Regions from separate parts of the Homo sapiens genome. Here region 1 is linked to region 2. Evidence: fine-mapped expression QTL. A gene starts in region 2. The other region holds a variant in brackets. All regions are shown on one strand. Distances are from middle to middle. Region 1 overlaps P2RX4 (purinergic receptor P2X 4). Region 2 holds the start of P2RX4 (purinergic receptor P2X 4).

Region 1 (9,371 bases), 27 kb after region 2:
CCTCTCCCTGCCCCTGCAGAAACACTTTTTTTCTTTTTCGGTGTCTTGGCAGGCAGGGAAATTTGACATCATCCCCACTATGATCAACATCGGCTCTGGCCTGGCACTGCTAGGCATGGTGAGTGGTTTAGGCCCTGCCTTCACCCTCACGGTGAGGTGAGACCCTGGGCTGGGGTCCTGGTCCTGGCCCTAGGCCCTAGACCTCAGATGTGTTTCTAAACTTGACCCTCCTACCTTCTTTCCCTTGGCCCCCAGCCCTCCTCCCACCTTCCCTTCTCCAAGACCACCCCCCTCAGGTCCCAGCCTTCTCCCAAGAGATGGGAGTGCCTTTCCATTCCGGTAAAGATTCCAGGCTTCTCAGGAAGGGGCACGCAAAGAATAAGATGGGTTGATGGGTTGCAAGCATCCTGGCTCACTCTCACCCTATGCTAAACTCAGGCGACCGTGCTGTGTGACATCATAGTCCTCTACTGCATGAAGAAAAGACTCTACTATCGGGAGAAGAAATATAAATATGTGGAAGATTACGAGCAGGTAGGCCCCTCCTGGCCCCCAGCAGGCACAGGCCTCTCATCTCTTGGGTGTGGGAGCCCTGGGCGTGGGCCTGTCTGGGGAGGCCCTTCTGCAGAGGCTGGCACCAGTGTGGCGTGGTGTCCCCGTTAACCCGGGCAGTCCTGCCACTCTCAGCAGCTGCTCCATCCCTAGGCCCCTGTACTAGATTGACTCTTTAAACCCAGCCTCGTTTCAATGAGCGACATCTCAGGTTGGTGATGATAATGCATGCTCTGAGAATGCCTGTGGGCACACACTACTTCAGTGCACCTTGCGGAACAGGAAGGGTTGGGTTCCAGGCCTGGGACCAACTTGAGAACCCCTGGCGGTGAAGTCCCAGGAGCGCACCTCCCTCCCGCCTGCCACAAGGGGTCCCAGGGGCACCTTGATCTGCTTGTGTCCTTCTTTGCAGGGTCTTGCTAGTGAGCTGGACCAGTGAGGCCTACCCCACACCTGGGCTCTCCACAGCCCCATCAAAGAACAGAGAGGAGGAGGAGGGAGAAATGGCCACCACATCACCCCAGAGAAATTTCTGGAATCTGATTGAGTCTCCACTCCACAAGCACTCAGGGTTCCCCAGCAGCTCCTGTGTGTTGTGTGCAGGATCTGTTTGCCCACTCGGCCCAGGAGGTCAGCAGTCTGTTCTTGGCTGGGTCAACTCTGCTTTTCCCGCAACCTGGGGTTGTCGGGGGAGCGCTGGCCCGACGCAGTGGCACTGCTGTGGCTTTCAGGGCTGGAGCTGGCTTTGCTCAGAAGCCTCCTGTCTCCAGCTCTCTCCAGGACAGGCCCAGTCCTCTGAGGCACGGCGGCTCTGTTCAAGCACTTTATGCGGCAGGGGAGGCCGCCTGGCTGCAGTCACTAGACTTGTAGCAGGCCTGGGCTGCAGGCTTCCCCCCGACCATTCCCTGCAGCCATGCGGCAGAGCTGGCATTTCTCCTCAGAGAAGCGCTGTGCTAAGGTGATCGAGGACCAGACATTAAAGCGTGATTTTCTTAATCCCTGTCTGTTGTCTCATAGCATGTGCTAGAACTTTCCTTCCTACCCTTTTACGACAACCAGTAAATCCACTATTCCGGCTCACTGTGCTCAGAAAAGGTCCATGGGATGGTCTGTTTCTGGCACTTATGCACATTTTCCCCTACTTCTTTATTTATTTATTTTATTTTTGAGGCAGAGTCTCACTCTGTCGCCCAGGCTGGAGCGCAGTGGTGCAATCTCGGCTCATTGCAACCTCTGCCTCCCGGGTTCAAGCGATTCTCCTGCCTCAGCCTCCCGAGTAGCTGGGATTACAGGTGCATGCCACCATGCCCGGCTAATTTTTGTATTTTTAGTAGAGACAGGGTTTCACCACATTGGCCAGCCAGGCTGGTCTCGAACTCCTGACCTCAAATGATCCATCTGCCTTAGCCTCTCAAAGTGATTGGATTACAGGTGTGCGCCACCACACCTGGCCTATTTATTTTTTTTATTACCCAGGCTGGAGTGCAGTGGCGCAATCACTGCTCACTGCAGTCTCCACCTCCTGGGCTTAAGCGATCCTCCTACCTCAGCCTCCCATAGTGCTGGGATTACAAGCATGAGCCACTGCACCCAGCTGCCTACTTTTTAAAGCCTAATAATTTGTCATTAGCTTGTCTTCCTGCACAGTTCACAGGACACTTTTTCTCTAGTGACATCTTACCTGTGCCTCCATTTTGACATAAAATTACAATTCTATGCTGTGGGTAACACAATTTTTGGTAACATGGAAGTGGCTTCCTCTCCCTTCCCTGTTTGCTTCCCAAAAGTCTCCAACCAAAAGCAGCAGCACGCATACCTAGCTCCGCACAGGTTCGAAATGTTCATGAAGCTATTTCCAGCTGCAGCTTCACACCAACTAAATGTTTGTGTTTTTTTGTTTTTGAGACAGAGTCTTGCCCTATTGCCCAGGCTGGAGTGCAGTGGCATGATCTCGGCTCACTGCAACCTCTGCCTCCTGGGTTCAAGCAATTCTCCTGCCTCAGCCTCCCAAGTAGCTGGGATTACAGGCATCTGCCACCACACCCAGCTAATTTTTGTATTTTTAGTAGAGACAGAGGTTCACCATGTTGGCCAGGCTGGTCTGGAACTCCTGACCTCATGATCCACCGCCTCAGCCTCCCAAAGTGCTGGGATTACAGGCGTGAGCCACTGCACCCAGCCACACACCAGCTGAATTCTGCATCAGGTATTCAGAATCCCCCTAGAGGAAGCAGTTTGCCCTTCGCCTCTGCCATGAATTCACTTCCAAGTACTGAGAGGAACCATTATTTTACAAATACTCTGCTTCTGCTGGATAAATGGCCAACCTGGGCTTTTCTTGCTTTTGGAAAAAAAAAAAAAAGTTTACCAACTCCCTTTATTGAAGCTCTGGTTCATGCTGCCTTTTAAAAAAAAATGCTTGTTGCCTGTAATCCCAGGACTTTGGGAGGCCAAGGTGGATCACTTAAGCGTAGGCATTCAAGACCAGCCCAGTCAACATGGTGAGACCCTATCTCTACAAAAAATTAAATTAGCCGGGTGTGGCGGTATATATCTGTAGTCCCAGCTACTTGGGTGGCTGAGGCCGGAGGATCACTTGAGCCCAGGAGGTTGAGGCTGCAGTGAGCTATGATGGTGCCACTGTACTCCAGCCTGGGCACCAAAGTGAGACCCTGTCTGAAAAAATAAAAAGTGCTTGCTTAGGCACATGGGTCAAATGAAGCTGGAATGTTTAGGAATGGTGATATGGGCTGAATGTGTCTACCAAAATTCACATTTTGGAAACTTCATCCCCAAGGCAACCTTATTGGGAGGTGAAGCCTTGGGGAGGTGACTGAGTCAGGATTGCGCTGCCCTCATGAATGGGGTTGGTGCCCTATACGAGGGCTAGAGAGGGAGCTCATCCCCCGTCTGCCTTGCCACTGTCTGCCACGCGAGGACAAGTGTTCCTCCCTCCAAAGGATGCGGCACCAAGGCACCCTCTTGGAAGCAGAGAGCAGCCCTCACCAGATACCAAACCTGCCAGCACCTTGATCTTGAACTTCCTGGCCTCCAGAAATGTGAGAAATCAATTATTGTTCTTTATAAATTACCCAGTCTTAGGTCCCTGTAACAGCAGCACAAAACAGACTTAAGGGCAATGGGTGTGTTTATGATCTTGCTCGTCAAGGAGTGATGGTCACTGGCTGTCTTCCGAAGTGGGGGAGATGCTGTTTAGCCTCTTTTCTAAAACAAATGTGAAAGCAAGCCAGTGTTGGGGTGAGGGGCGGGTGTGTTTCTAGATGCCATGAACACCAGCAGGAGGCTGGGTGTGGTGATGCGCGCCTGTCATCCCAGCACTTTGGGAGGCTGAGGCAGGAGGATTACTTGGTCCAAGAGTTTGAGACCAGCCTGGGCAACAGGTAGTGAGACCTCATCCCTACAAATAATTTAAAAATTAGCCAGGCATGGTGGTGCACATCTGTAGTCCCAGCAACTCGGGAGGCTGAGGTGGGAGGACTGCTTGAGTCCAGGAGTTTGAGACCAGGCCTGGGTAATATAGTGAGATTCTGTCTCTATAAAAAATTTAAGAATTATCTGGGTGTGGGGGCTGGTGTGGTGGTGGGCCCCTGTGGTCCCAGCTACTTTGGAACCCAAAGTGGATGGATCACTTAAGCCTGAGAGGTGGAGATTGCAGTGAGCCGAGACTGCCACTGCACTCCAGGCTGGGTGACAGAACGAGACCCTGTCTCAAAAAAGAAAACCAGAAGGGTTTTGCTGGCAAATTCTAACCCTTGGACAACTGACTTAACTTTCTGGAGCCTCACCTCACAGACGATGATCCATAAAACGAGGTTAATCCCTACCTCGTGGGGTAAAGTGTCATGTGGCATACCAGGCCATAGTTCAGTGTGACTGAGACTGCTCGGGGGCTGCCCACCTGTCTGGCCTCCACCAGAATCTTGCAATTACCTGCCTGCGAAAGCAGTGCTGCTCAAACTTCAGCACACGGACGAGTCACCTGGGGAGCAGGTTTAAGCCAAGCCTGGGTATCTGCATTTATTTTTTTCTTTTAATTTTTGAAACAGGGTCTCGCCCTGTTGCCCAGGCTGGTGTGCAGTGGCATGATCACAGCTCACTGCAGCCTTGACCTCCAGGGTTCACGTAATCCCCCCACCTCAGCCTCCTGAGTAGCTGTGGGACCATAGGCATGCACCACCACACTCAATTAATTTTTTAATTTTTTTTTTTTTTTTTAAGAGATGGGGTCTTGCCATGTTGTCCAGGCTGGTCTCAAACTCCTAGGCTCAAGCAATCCTCCCACCTTGGCCTCCCAAAGTGCTGGGATTGCAGGTGTGAGCCACCGTGCCCGGCC[G/A]GCACCTGCGTTTCTAACCCACTCACAGGTGACACTGGCGCTACTGGTCTGGGAGCCACACTGAGTAGCAAGGTCCTAGGACATGCTCTAAATTAGAGATTTGCTGAATACATTAGCCTTGACTTGGGCATCTGACCTCGCTGTCAGCCTGAGGAAGGAATACAGACATCAGGGCAGGCGGCCTAAATAAACAATCACCAATACAAACCTCCCCAAGAGGCCCAGGCTTGGCACCATTTTGCTGTCTGTTTATTTCAACTGTACAGAGAAGCTTAAACACCTGTGGAAAAACACGAAAGGCTTAGTTGTCTCTTAAGTTCATGTACTTTTTAGTGATAAATACACAGTATTTAACTTTATACACCTGATAAAAGGAAAATGCATAGTAGAAAGGGTCGGGAATGAAACAGAAGCATCGGGCATTGAATCGATCACAGAGTAGAAAAATCTGCAGTCCCCAGAAACTCGGCCTCCAGCTGGAGAGGGGAACCAGCGTACCCTGAAACTTCCCTAGCACCTTGGAAGCAAGTGGAGGTCATGGTTCTTCCACTCGGCAACGTGAAGCTCCCCGCTGGAAGACAAGTGAGAGCGACAGGCCAGGCCTGTGTGTCCACCTGCACAGGCATTCTCCTTGTTCCAGAAAGGCTCTGAGGACGGAAGACCTGCCTCTCAGGAAAGGCCAGACCAGTAGGGAGAGGCCTCCGCAGCCCCAAGTGTCAACAAGGGGCTCAATAAGGCTTTCTGGGAGCCACTGGCAGCTGGTGGGATGGAAGGGGGAGGTGGAAAAGGGCAGAGGAAATGGGAAGTGGATGGAGGGTTTGTGCTTCCTTCGAGGCCACAAGTGCAGGCCACAGGTTGCTTACACCAAATTGGTCCCACAGATGAGCTAGCAATGGAAGAAATTATGGGCGTCCTCTTTGCCCACTGGAAGAGCTGCTCATAACAGCACCTCCTTTCCTGACAGAGCTGGCTTTTGAAAAATCAATGTGCTCCAAGAGTGGCAGCTCAAATGCTCTGTGTTTACAGCCATCTTGGCTTATCCTTTTCATGTGGGGCAGGTCCTTTCCACAGCTTTCTTTGGTGTTTCTTCATTAAAAGAAAAAAAAAAAGTCATCAATGTGGGTCTCCCCCACCCCACTGCCCCCACAGCTGGGTGCTGCCTGATTGCTGGCATTCCCTGGAAGAAATCTTAGATGGAAGGTTCCGTGGTGGGGAGAAATGGCATTGTCTGATGCAGCTGTGTAAACAAGAGAAGCCCTGCAGAAGCTCTAAGCACTGCTGCCCCCTGGGCCAGCCACCAGGCCAGGCCAGAGCCCACACAAGCAGGCTGGGCCTAAGACTAGGGACCCGCTGGCTTTAACCTCTGCAAGGTGCTTATTGCAAACTAACCAAGCCCCATCTGGTGCCAGAAGGGGTGGAGCTATTGAGTCCTCTCCCCATAAACATAAAGCCAGGAGGGCAAGAGGAAGTGCTGGGTTACAAAGACCCAGCAAGCAGGCCAGACGACCCTCTCTAGACTACCTGTCCTTTGCTCTTCAAAACCAGCATTCCCTAATTCTGAACTGCTTATAAGATAGCAAAACAAGTCTGGCTAAACTACAGTCAAGAGCTTAGGATCTATGGAAGCCAAGAAGGCCCAGGGCTCCATGAATGGGCTGGGCAGGGGCACGAGGCCTTGCCTTTGTCTGAGAAGTCCTCACACCACAGCTGATCAGATGGAAACAATGGGGAAGCAGAGTTTCCCGGTGCCGTCTTTCCCCAGCCCAGATTCCACCAAGCGCTGGAAAGCAGAGCTGGGAATCTCCCAAGGCAGAGTCCTTCCAGCTTTCCTCCCCCTCAACTTCACACTCCCCTACCTGTGGCTCTGGAAGGAGTCACACTTGAACCTCAACCAAACTTCCCAATATCAGTTGGAAGTCAAAAAGATGAACCCTTTCTTTCTGGACTTTTAGCTACAAAGGGGAACTTCCTGTGCCAAGCCCTGGTTTCCTCATACCCCAACGAGTGCTGTGGGTTTCAACAGTCTTCTCTAAAAGGGTGCCCCAAGGTTATTGTGTGGAGTCTAGGGAAGCTCAGATCCTCAGGATGATCATTTGTGTGTTGGTCCAGTGAAAGCATTTCCCACCTGGCCCTCCAGAAACTGGGTATTTCATTGACCACAACAATCAGCTAGGATTTAAAATGAAAACAAAACCTTAGCAGTCTTTAGAATATACAGGTTATGAACTAGCTAAGCTGCTAATATATATACAGGCGGGCATAGGTTTCATCGGCTCTAACTGATCACATGCCTGAAGCTGTGAAATATATCCTGGAAGCTCTAAATAGTTTCTGAACTACTGTGCTCTAGAGTTCACTCTAGTTAGAGACTTGAAAAATGTTTTTGTTTAATCTTAAGCCATGTAATGTACATGGAAGCATAGGATTTCACCCTGAAGTTTTCGTAATTTGACAAAGAGATTTACCAGAGCTCGGTCAGCTATCTCAGAAACCTGCTTTGAGCAGCTGTCATGAAGAAACACGTTCAGTCTTTCAGGAGAAATGTTTCCCCACCACAGCTGCTGAATACCCTTCCAGGCTTGGAAAATCCCCTTCCAGCAGCACTTATTAAATTTCAAGCCCTTTCTGTTTTCCTGACTACAATTCTACCCATAAAAAATTTAAAAATCCTTCTTACAAATAAGTTGCATCAAAGCTCCCTGCAGCTACTGAGGGCCAGCCCTGCTCTGACTCCTTGAGACCACGGCTCTGGAAGGTGCCATGGTTTCCGGTTTGCACTAGGAGCCACATCTAGCCCCCTACTCCCTCTCAAATGCAGCAACCACCTCCATGGCCTCAGACCGCCGGAGTTTTCTGCTCGCCTTTCCACAGTTGTCAAACCCCACACACAGTCACTTGGTATATCTGACGTGGTTCTGAAAATCACAATGAAGGATTTTTGGCATAAAAACGTTTTAAAAAGCAATTGTCCCAAAATGCACGTGGGTTTGGGTCTGCAACTCCTCACACCCGCCTGTCCAGCCAGCCAGCGGCCACGGTCGACGTCATGGAGTCAAGTCCTTTTTTTTTTTTTGTCCCCTTTAAAACAACAAAGGAAAAAACAAATAACCAGAGATGACGATCGAGGCTCTACACACGTGCTGGGTTTCCGTAGGACATGCTGCTATGGAAACGCGGTGCAGCAGCCCCCCAGAGGCGACGCGGCGCGCATGCGAGGTCGAGCGATCCAGGCAGCTACTCGGGCTCCATGGCCTCCTCCGGCCGCAGTGGATGCATGCGTGCGGGGGAGCCGGGGGCGGGGGCCCAGCAACTTTCCACGCAGGGACTGCCTCTCACAAGAGCACTTCCTCCTCCCCCACGGGGGGCGGGTCGGTGCCCTGGAGGTTGTCTTCGCTGCCTTGCTTCCTGCTCACCGAACAGAAAACCAACATTAAGACTCTGAGAAATGCCAGCGAGGCCCTGAGCCAGCTGCTCCCACATCTGGGCCCCCTGCCCAAGTGGGCCGTCGCGCACCCCCTGGAACGTGATCTACGTAACCCAGTCTTTGAGATCCTCTCCCCTTTTCCTTGCTCACATAAATTTTTCAAAGGAGACTTTGCACGCAGCCCCTCTGTAAATGAAAGACCAGCATCATTTGCCAAAAATAGCAAGGACCCGTACAACAGTTCCAAAACTATGTAACACCAAAATTCACTGCACAAATCCCAAGTAGAAGGCACCCCCCACCCCACGGCGCCTGTCATACCAGGTTTTTAGGTACTTCGATCCCCCACTTAGGCTATGAGCCCTTACAGGGAAGGGACTGTGACGCTTGTCCTCAGTCACCAGATGTTGAGTTCCTTGTGTGTGGGGGTGATCAGAGCCTCCCCTGCCTGGCCTGGCACACAGCTGGCCCTCAAGAAAGGGCAGATGACAACTGCTCCAGGGATCCTCCCGCCTCAGCCCTCCTGCAGCCAGCCCTGAGGGAGGAGCACCTCAGACAGAAGAGGAGGCCCCTTCCCTCTTGGAAGTGGGAGGAGGAGAGCCCTTGTTTCCCTGAAGAGCCCAGGCTGGAGCCGCCGGTGTGACAGCGTGGATGGCGTGACAGGTGCGAGGGGAATCCCCGAGCCTATCCCCTCACCACCATCACACAGCTCCCCTGTTCTTAGGGAGGTCACTGGGCATGCCACATGGGTTACTGTCTGTCCTTCCCCCACAACAATCCGTGTCTCCTGTCCAGGAGGGAGACTGTCCTTACACAAGGGAAAGGAAGCGTGATGTCTGGCTTGCTATGTTTCTGATGGAGAATGTGGGTAAGGTCCCTGGGGAGGGGGGCGCTGTAACTAGACGTTAGGTCAGGCCCTCAGTCTCTGCCCTCGCAGTTGCCTGTTGGTAGGGGTTGGGTCTTACTGCAGACGGCAGGCAGGCCCCCAGTCCAAGACCCCCAGTGCCTGAATCAGCTCTGTGAGCTCCCATGACCAAGGCA
Region 2 (9,371 bases):
AGTGGGCATGGGAAGGTTAAAGAGACAAGGTCAGATGCCAAACATAGCTTTTCTTTTCTTTTTTTTTTTTCTTGATACGGAGTCTCGCTCTGTCACCCAGGCTGGAGTGCAATGGTGCGATCTCGGCTCACTGCAACCTCCCAGGTTCAAGTGATTCTCTTGCCTCAGCCTCCTGAGTAGCTGATTACAGGGATTACAGGCATGCACCACCATGCCTGGCTAATTTTTGTATTTTGAGTAGAGATGGGGTTTCTCCATGTTGCCCAGCCTGGTTTCGAACTCCTGGCCTCAAGTGATCCACCTGCCTCGGCCTCCCAAAGTGCTGGGATGACAGGCGTGAACCACGGAGCCCCGCCCAGAACATATCTTTTTAATTCTCTGGGGAAATCCTAGAAAAGGAATATCTTGGTCCTACGGTAATTTCTATGTTTAACATTTTGAGGAACTGCTGTTTTCCAAAGCAGCTGGCCCATTTTACATTCCCACGAGTAAAAAGCAGCTGGACCATTTTACATTCCCATGAGTAATGTGTGAGGGTTCCAGTTTCTCCACATCCTTGCCAGCTTTTTGATTGTCCATCTTTTTAATTATAACCATGCTAGTGGGGAGGAAATGGTATCTCACTGTGGCTTTGATTTGTATTTCCCTAACGATAATGATATCGAGCATCTTCTTGTGTTTATTGATCTCATGTGTATATCTTCTTTGGAGAAATGTCTATTCAGATATGTTTGCCCATTTTTAAATAGGGTTGTCATGTTATTGGTGAGTTTTAAGAGTTCTTACGATATCTGAAATACTAGATCCTTAACAGATATAGGATATGTGAATATTTTATCATTCTGTGGGTTTTTCCCTTTCTTGATGGTAACTTTGAAGCACGAACTTTTCAGTTTTGACAAAGTAGTCCAATTTATCTATTTTTTTCTTTTGTTGCCTTGCTTTAGGCAACAAAATCTAAATCTAAAAAACCACTGTCTAATCCGAGGTCACAAAGATTTGCCCCTATGTTTTCATCAGAGAGATTTATAATTTTAGCTCTTATATGTATGTCTTTGATCCATTTTTAATTTTCTCTCTTTCCTTATTATTTTTATTATATTATTTTTTTTAAGACAGAGTCTCACTGTGTCACCCAGGCTGGAGGGCAGTGGCACAATATCAGCTCACTGCAGCCTCCGCCTGCTGGGCTCAAGCAATTCTCCTACCTCAACCTCCCAAGTAGCTGGGATTACAGGCATGCACTACCACACCCGGCTAACTTTTGTATTTTTAGTAGAGATGGGGCTTCACCATGTTGGTCAGGCTGGTCTCAAACTCCCGACCTCAAGTGATCCACCTACCTCAACCTCTCAAAGTGCTGGGATTACAGGTGTGAGCCACACCTGGCCAATTTATTTTTTTAAAAATTTTATGTAGCTGGGACTACAACTACAGGTGCGTGCTACCATGCCCAGCTAATTTTTGTACTTTTTGTAGAGATGGGGTTTCACCATGTTGCCCAGGCTGGTCTGGAACTCCTGAGCTCAAGTGAGCCACCCACCTCGGCCCCCCAAAGTGCTGGGATTACAGGTGTGAGCCACCGCATCCCGCCTTCTTATTTATTTTTGAGACAGGGTCTCACTCTGTCACCCAGGCTGGAGTGCAGTGGCACAATTGCAGCTCACTACAACCTTGACCTCCTAAACTCAAGTGATCCTCCTGCCTCAGCCTCCCAAGTAGCTGGGACCACAGGCATGCACCAGCATGGCTGGCTAATTTTTAAAGTATTTATAGAGATGGGGGTCTCCCTATGTTGTCCAGGCTGGTCTCAAACTCCTGGGCTCTAGCAATCCTCCCAACTTAGTCTCTCAAAGTGCTGGGATTACAGGAATGGGCCACCATGTCTGGTCAATAAAGTTATTTTTTAAAAAGAGATAATCCAAGAGCAACAGTGTAAACAAAATAACTTTTCCAAATCATTTTTTAGGATCAGCTTCTTTGGTCAGGCCTAATGATGTTACCAACTAGTAATTTATAAAAACTTGCATTTCTACATTTTTCTTAACTGACCCCATTCCAAAACACAAGCAAACCATCTAAATTCAAGATTTGTGAGGTTGGGACTAACTCATTACTATAGGGTAAGTATGAATGAAGGCTGGAAATGTGTTTTGATTGCTGCCATTATTTTTTATTTTTATTTTTTCTGAGATGGAGTTTCACTCTTGTCGCCCAGGCTGGAGTGCAATGGCGTGATCAGCTCATGGCAACCTCCACCTCCCCGGTTCAAGCAATTCTCCTGCCTCAGCCTCCTGAGTAGCTGAGATTACAGGCATGCGCCACCACGCCCAGCTAATTTTTGTATTTTTAGTAGAGACGGGGTTTCTCCATTGTTGGTCAGGCTGGTCTCGAACTCCCAATGTCAGGTGATCCACCCACCTTGGCCTGCCAAAGTGCTGGGATTAAAGGTGTAAGCCACGTGCCTGGTGTTTTTTGGGGTTTGTTTGTTTGTTTTGAGATGGAGTCTGTCACCCAGGCTGGAGTGCAGTGGCACAATTTCAGCTCACTGCAACCTCCGCCTCCCAGGTTCAAGCAATTCTTCCTGCCTCAGCCTCCCGAGTAGCTGGGATTACAGGCACCTGCCATAAGGCCCAGCTAAGTTTTTTATATTTTCAGTAGAGATGAGGTTTCACCATGTTGGCCAGGCTGGTCTCCAGCTCCTGACCTCACATGATCATCCGCCTGCCTCGGCCTCCCAAAGTGCTGCAGTTATAGGTGTGAGCCACCGTGCCCAGCCATGTTTTGATTCTTAAGGAAATGATTTTTAAGTCCCCTTCCAATGAGGATTTAGCAATGGAGTTTTCTTCTTCTACAGATAATTTGAGGCTTCCCAATTGCACCAAACTCCATTTGGGCAGATACCTCACCTGTCCACTCCATAGCCCTAGCATCAAGAAAAGTGCCAAGCACACAACAGGCACTCAGTAAATTTCTGTCAAATGAATGAATAAAATACCACCACCTTTTCCTGAGACCATTTTGGACCAAGGCTGGCATGGGCATCTCTGTTCCTCCCTCTAACTTAAGAATTCCATCTCTTAGAGGCAGATGCTGCCTGTTTTCTGCAAATTTTATTATTCACCTTTCTATATTTGGAAAAACAAGTTGGTGTGGCTTACTTAGGAATCTCATATCCAGGAAATGAGCTAAAAATGTTGTATCAAAGATTATGCATAGGATCCACAAACTAAGAAGCAAGCAGATGAGAGCGGTTAGAGACATCGTGGTATATTTTCCGGAAGAAATGGTCCATGGATTAAAAATTGTCATTATGATGAGTCTGCAGTAACACAGAAACCACGTAGTGCGAATCAGAAAATGAAAAGCACAGCCATTGACTATGATTACAAACCAAAACTTTATACCAATTACCTGTTGGAATTTATGCTGCATGAAGGCAGGATATTTTGCTTGTCCTGTTCACTGGACAGTACTTGGCATAAAGGATGTGCTTATGAATATTTTCTGGGAAACTAAATATAACATTCACCTGTGAAAACACATCTGGGCCAGGCGCAGTGGCTCACGCCTGTAATCCCAACACTTTGGGAGCCCGAGGCGGGTGGATCATGGGAGGTCAGGAGCTGGAGATCAGCCTGGCCAACATGGTGAAAACCTGTCTCTAATAAAAATACAAAAATTAGCTGGGCGTGGTGGCGGGCACTTGTAATCCCAGCTACTCAAGAGGCTGAGGCAGGAGAATTGCTTGAACCTGGGAGGCGGAGGTTACAGTGAGCCGAGATCGCGCCACTGCACTCCAGACTGGACAAGAGTGAAACTCCGTCTCAAAAAAAAAAAGAAAAAGAAAAAGAAAAAACGTATCTGAAGGGAATGAACAAATACACATGCGGAAAATTGTATTCATGGGGTAGAACGGTGGCTGTTTCCCCCCCTTTCACTATTTTCTCTCCTAAAGTTGTGATAGCATTTTCTCAGTGGAAAGGATGACCACAGAATTATCTCCCCTGGGCTGCAACTAAGGAAGTATTTGGAGTGAGAATGCGACCAGGCTTCAAATCCAGGAGGGGTATTTTACAGGGCGTGTGGCTCTCACCCAGGGCTCACAGGACACCTGATATTTAGGCTGTTCCCCAAGAGGCTAAGGACAGCGCGGCCCCAGCTCCCCCAACCACAGCTGCCCAAGTTTAGGAGCCCGCACTCGTGAGCGATGGCTACTCCGCACAGCCCCGGGGTCCTCTACGGAAATCCCTGGCACCTATCAGTACCCCTAAGGGAGGTCGCTCGTTACCCCTCACTTGAACTCTGTCCCAAATGGGAGGTCACTCTCTCTTCGCGGACCCCATCTTCCCCGAAAGGGTCTCTTGTTCTCTCTGGCCCTCCTGAGAAGGTCATTACTCCCCAACTCGCCTTTTTTGTTGTTTTTTGGTTTCTGGTTTATTGAGGCAGGGTCTCGCTTCATCTCCCAGACTGGAGTGCAGTGGCGCGATCACAGCTCACACGGCAGCCTCTACCTCCTGGGCTCAAGCGATCCTCTCACCTCAGCCTCCCTGGGACTACAGGCGAGCGCCACTACGCCCGCTTTTTTTTTTTTTTTTTTTTTTTTTTTGTATTTTTGATAGAGACGAGGTCTCGCTATGTTGTCCAGGCTGGTCTCTAACTCAAGATTCCTCTCACCTCGGCCTCCGCAAGTGCTGGGATGACAGGTGTGAGCCACCGCCCCCGGCCCCTCGCCCGCCTTTTGAAGGAGCCTTTCGTCCTCAAGGGCGAGGCCACTCCCCCCCCGCGAGTTCCATGCCCCCTAGAGGGTCATCGTTCCCGACGGGGAGGTGGCGCCCTCCCCCGGGCCCCGGGCCCCGACCGCCCGTGCTGCCTCCTTCCGGGCCCTCCTCCGCGATGACGGCGCCGCCAGCAGGCCAGGCGGACTGGGCGGGGCTCCGAGCGGGGACTGGGACCCAGACCGACTAGGGGACTGGGAGCGGGCGGCGCGGCCATGGCGGGCTGCTGCGCCGCGCTGGCGGCCTTCCTGTTCGAGTACGACACGCCGCGCATCGTGCTCATCCGCAGCCGCAAAGTGGGGCTCATGAACCGCGCCGTGCAACTGCTCATCCTGGCCTACGTCATCGGGTGAGCGTGGGGCCGCGCGGGGGGCGCGGCGGGTGCTGCCCTCGCGTCCGCGCCGTGCGGCGGCTCATCCTGGCCTCGGTCACCTGGGCGAGTCCGGGAGCGGCGAGCCGAGGCGGTGACACCTTCCCTGGGCCCCAGCCGCCGCGCCGGGGCCCCGGGGGCGGGAGGCTGCTTGCTGCTGTTTTAAAACCACAGCCTGGGCCAGGCGCGGTGGCGCAAGCCTGTAATCCGAGCACTTTGGGAGCCCGAGGCGGGACCATCGCCTGAGCCCAGGAGTTCGAAACCAATTTGGGCAACATCGTGGGACCCCGTCTCTGCAAAAAATTAAAAATCATCCGGGCCTGGTGGCGCGCGCCTGGGGTCCCAGCTACTCAGGAGGCTGAGGTGGGAGGATCGCTTGAGCCCAAGAGGCTGAGGCTGCAGTGAGCTATGATCACACCACTTAACTCGAGCCTGGGAGACAGTCCGAGACCCGTCTGTTTACAAAATAAATAAAGGCAAAGCCTGGCTAGGCTGTTACCCTCTCCTGCCTGACCCCCCATAGTGCCCCTTGGCTGTAGGGGCTTCGCCCTGAACGTCTCAATCTTCGCTCTCCACTTCCCATCCTGCTGATTTGCTGACAAAACCAAAGCTTGGAATTTCCGCTTGGTTCCTTCTGGGTGGGTGGCTTTTGGTCATTTCTTTTGATCACTATGCGGTGTCACTATGTGGTAGTAGCGAGGTCAGACTGTAGCGAGTGTTTAAAGTTTGCTTCCTTTGTTTTCTGGGCTTGTGGGGCTTTTTGTGGTACCTGCCCTAGCCTAGTCAGTCATTCCCCATGCTGCCCCCTTAGGCTAGAGATGCCCTACCGCCCTCAGGCCTCGCTGAATGTGCCATTGTACTTGAAGGCACCTGTTACTTTTTTAATTTTTTTATTTTTTTGAGACGGAATTTCTCTCTTGTCGCCCGGGCTGGAGTGCAATGGCACGATCTCGGCTCACTGCAACCTCTGCCTCCCGGGTTCAAGCAATTCTCCTGTCTCAGTCTCCTGAGTGGCTGGGATTACAAGTGCCCGCCACCACGCCCGGCCAATTTTTGTATTTTTTAGTAGAGACGGGGTTTCAGGCTGGTCCTGAACTGACCTCAGGTGATCCGCCCACCTCAGCCTCCCAAAATGCTGGGATTACAGGCGTGAGCCCCCACGCGGGGCTGGCACCTGTTACAATTGAATACAACGCGAGAGAGAAGATGATAATTACCTTGCCACCTGGGGCCACTTTAAAGGCTTACCTGGGGTGTTCTGGTGTCTACAGCTGCTGGGCTGACACGTATTGCCTAGTGCAGTGGTCTCCAAACTGCACATTGGAACCATCTGGAAATCTTTGGCTCCCATCCCCAGACCCTTTTTTATTTTTTTGATGGAGTCTCCCTCTGTCGCCCAGGCTGGAGTGCAGTGGTGCAATCTTGGCTCGCTGCAACCTCCACCTCCCTGGTTCAAGCGATTCTCCTGCCTCAGCCTCCTGAGTAGCTGGGATTACAGGCACCCACCACCATGCCCGGCTAATTTTTGTATTTTTAGTAGGGACAGGGTTTCGCCATGTTGGCCAGGCTGGTCTCGAACTCCTGGCCTCAGGTGATCCACCCGCCGCAGCCTCCCAGAGTGCTGGGATTACAGGCGTGAGCCACCGCGCCCAGACGCATCCCCAGACCTTCTGATTTAATTGCTGCAGAGTATGATCGGCTGCCCAGGTGATTCTCATGTTCAGCAACGTTTCGGAACCAATGAACTGTGTTTCCCAAGTTTACCTGATCATGGAAGACTCATCTGAGGAATTGTTTAAAAGTAACAGATCCCCCCGTCTTTGGGGTGAGGTTTGGAATCTTAACACTGCCCAAGGGAAGCCCAAGCAGGTTTGGCTTCCAATATCTGTCAGCAGCAGCAGTAGATACAGACAGTATTCAAGAGGATGGCTTTCCAGGTGCAGACTCAACATCAGAACCACCTGGCCCACACCCAGATTTGGACTCATTGGCTCACACCTGTAGTCCCAGTGCTTTGGGAAGCCAAGGTGGGAGGATTGCTTGAGGCCAGGAGCTCAAGACCAGCCTGGACACAAGACCAGCCTGGACAACATAGCGAGACCCCATCTCTAAGAGAAAAATAAAGTTTAAAATGGTAAATTGTACTGATGGAGCAGTGCAAAAAAAAGAATTTTTTTTTTTTTTTTTTCTGAACACGGTGGCTCATGCCTATAATCTCAGCACTTTGGGAGGCCGAGGCGGGTGGATCACCTGAGGTCAGGAGTTCGAGACCAGCCTGGCCAACATGGTAAAACCCCGTCTCTACTAAAAGTACAAAAAATTAGCCAGGCCTAGTGGCTAATGCCTGTAATCCCGGCTACATGGGAGGCTGAGGCAGGAGAATCGTTTGAATCCAGGAGGCGGAGGTTGCAGTGAGCCCAGATTGCGCCACTGCACTCCAGCCTGGGCAACAAGAGCAAAACTCCATCTCAAATATATATATATATATATATATATATATATATATTTTTTTTTTTTTTTTGGAGACTCACTGCTAGCCAGTTAACTGAACTCACATCCCTGGTTGGACCTGAAGCATTTGGGGGCAGGAGCTCCCCTGCAGCTTTTTGCTTTTGGCGTTTGCTGCTAGTGGGAGGATCAGTGCACATCTACCTTAGGGTACCTGTAAAATTACAACTGCGGAAAATATCCATAGTGGTGTTGCACTGTATGGTAGCCACTAGTAACTTGCACCTGTTGAACACTTAACCGTTCCTACTCTACACTGAGATGTGCTATAACCTTAAAATACACACTGGATTTCAAAGACATAGTACAGAAAAAGAGGCTGGGCACAGTGGCTCATGCCTGAAATCACAGTACTTTGGGAGGCTGAGGTGGGAAGATCGCTTGAGCTCAAGAGTTTGAGACAAACCTGGGCAACATAGCGAGACCTTGCCTCTACAAAAAAATACAAAAATTAGCCTGGCATGGTGGCACACGCCTATAGGCCTACCTATTTGGGAGGTTGAGGCAGAAGGACTGCTTGAACCTGGGAGGTTGAGGCCACAGAGAGCTGTGATCACACCACCCTCCAGCCTGGGCAACAGAGCAAGACACTGTCTCAAAAAAACAAAGAGTACCACTATCACATGAAAACATTTTTTATTGATGACATGTTAAAATATTTTGGATATATTGGGTTACACAGAATATATCATTACAATTAATTTTTCCTGTCTCTTTTTTCTTTTTTTCTTTTTAAACGGCGCCTTGCTTTGTCACCCAGACTGGAGTGCAATGCACTGCAACCTCTGCCTCCCAGGCTCAAGTGATTCTACCATCTCAGCCTCTGGAATTATGGGACTACAGGTGCACACCACCATGACTGGCTAATTATTGTGTTTTTGTTTGTTTGTTTGTACAGATGAGAAATCTCATCTCTACAATCATGAGGTTTCCATGTTGCCCAGGCTGGTCTCGAACTCCTGAGCTCTAGCAATCTGTCTGCCTCGGCCTCCCAAAGTGCTGGGATTACAGGCATGAGCCACCGTGCCCAGCCCTTTCTATTTCTTTTTACTTTTTGACATGGCTACTAGAAACTTTTAAATTACAGGGTCTTGCCCTGTGGTAGCTCACGCCTGTAATCCCAATACTTTGGGAGGCTGAGGCAAGTGGATCCCTTGAGCTTAGGAATTTTGAGACCAGCCTGGGCAACGTAGTGAAACCCCATCTCTACCAAAAATACGAAAAATTAGCTTGGCATAGTGGCGCACACCTGTGGACCCAGCTACTTGGGAGGCTGAGGTGGGAGGATTGCTGTAGCCTGGGAGGCGGAGGTTGCAGTGAGCCAAGATTGTGCCACTGCACTTCAGCCTGGGCGACAGAGCGAGAGCCTGTCTCAAAAAAAAAAATATGTGGCTCGCGTTATGTTTTTATGGGACAGCGCAGCTCTGTAGGATTCCTTATGACGCATTCACTATCTCGGTCATGAGAATCTTTAAAGCAGTAAATGCTTTGCTTTTGTCCGTCTTGCTATAATCAAAACTGACTCAGGACCTGCATTAAGGCTCTTTTTTTTTTTAACCTCATCTCTTAACTTTTTGATGCAACTCATCTTAGTGAAATTGTGGTCTCCTCCTACAGCAACCCTCCCTCAAAAAAAGACCGAACACGCAATTCTCATCTATCTAACTCTGTTAACAATCATATGAGGAGGAAATAATCACATGATAATGAGTGGC

Evidence for each region. PIP is the estimated chance that this variant, and not a neighbour inherited with it, causes the effect.
Region 1: its variant is fine-mapped to the expression of P2RX4 in whole blood (TOPMed, PIP above 0.99).

The regions. Positions count from the first base shown.
Region 1 is chr12:121,232,559-121,241,929 of GRCh38, forward strand. P2RX4 (purinergic receptor P2X 4) reads left to right here. Exons shown (of 12, transcript NM_002560.3): 10 at 53-118; 11 at 439-534; 12 at 965-1,548. The coding sequence ends at 991. CAMKK2 (calcium/calmodulin dependent protein kinase kinase 2) reads right to left here. Exons shown (of 17, transcript NM_001270485.2): 17 at 5,134-8,311. The coding sequence ends at 8,141. Among named protein-coding and RNA genes, the nearest start is that of P2RX4, 27 kb to the left of the region's middle. RefSeq lists an enhancer at 1,184-1,811 and a silencer at 8,208-8,287. The variant G/A (reference allele first, on the strand shown) is at 4,907.
Region 2 is chr12:121,205,172-121,214,542 of GRCh38, forward strand. P2RX4 (purinergic receptor P2X 4) reads left to right here and starts at 4,958. Exons shown (of 12, transcript NM_002560.3): 1 at 4,958-5,127. The coding sequence starts at 4,994. LOC105370032 (a long non-coding RNA gene) reads right to left here and starts at 4,901. Exons shown (of 4, transcript XR_001749352.3): 1 at 4,678-4,901. RefSeq lists a silencer at 4,664-5,403 and an enhancer at 5,734-5,783.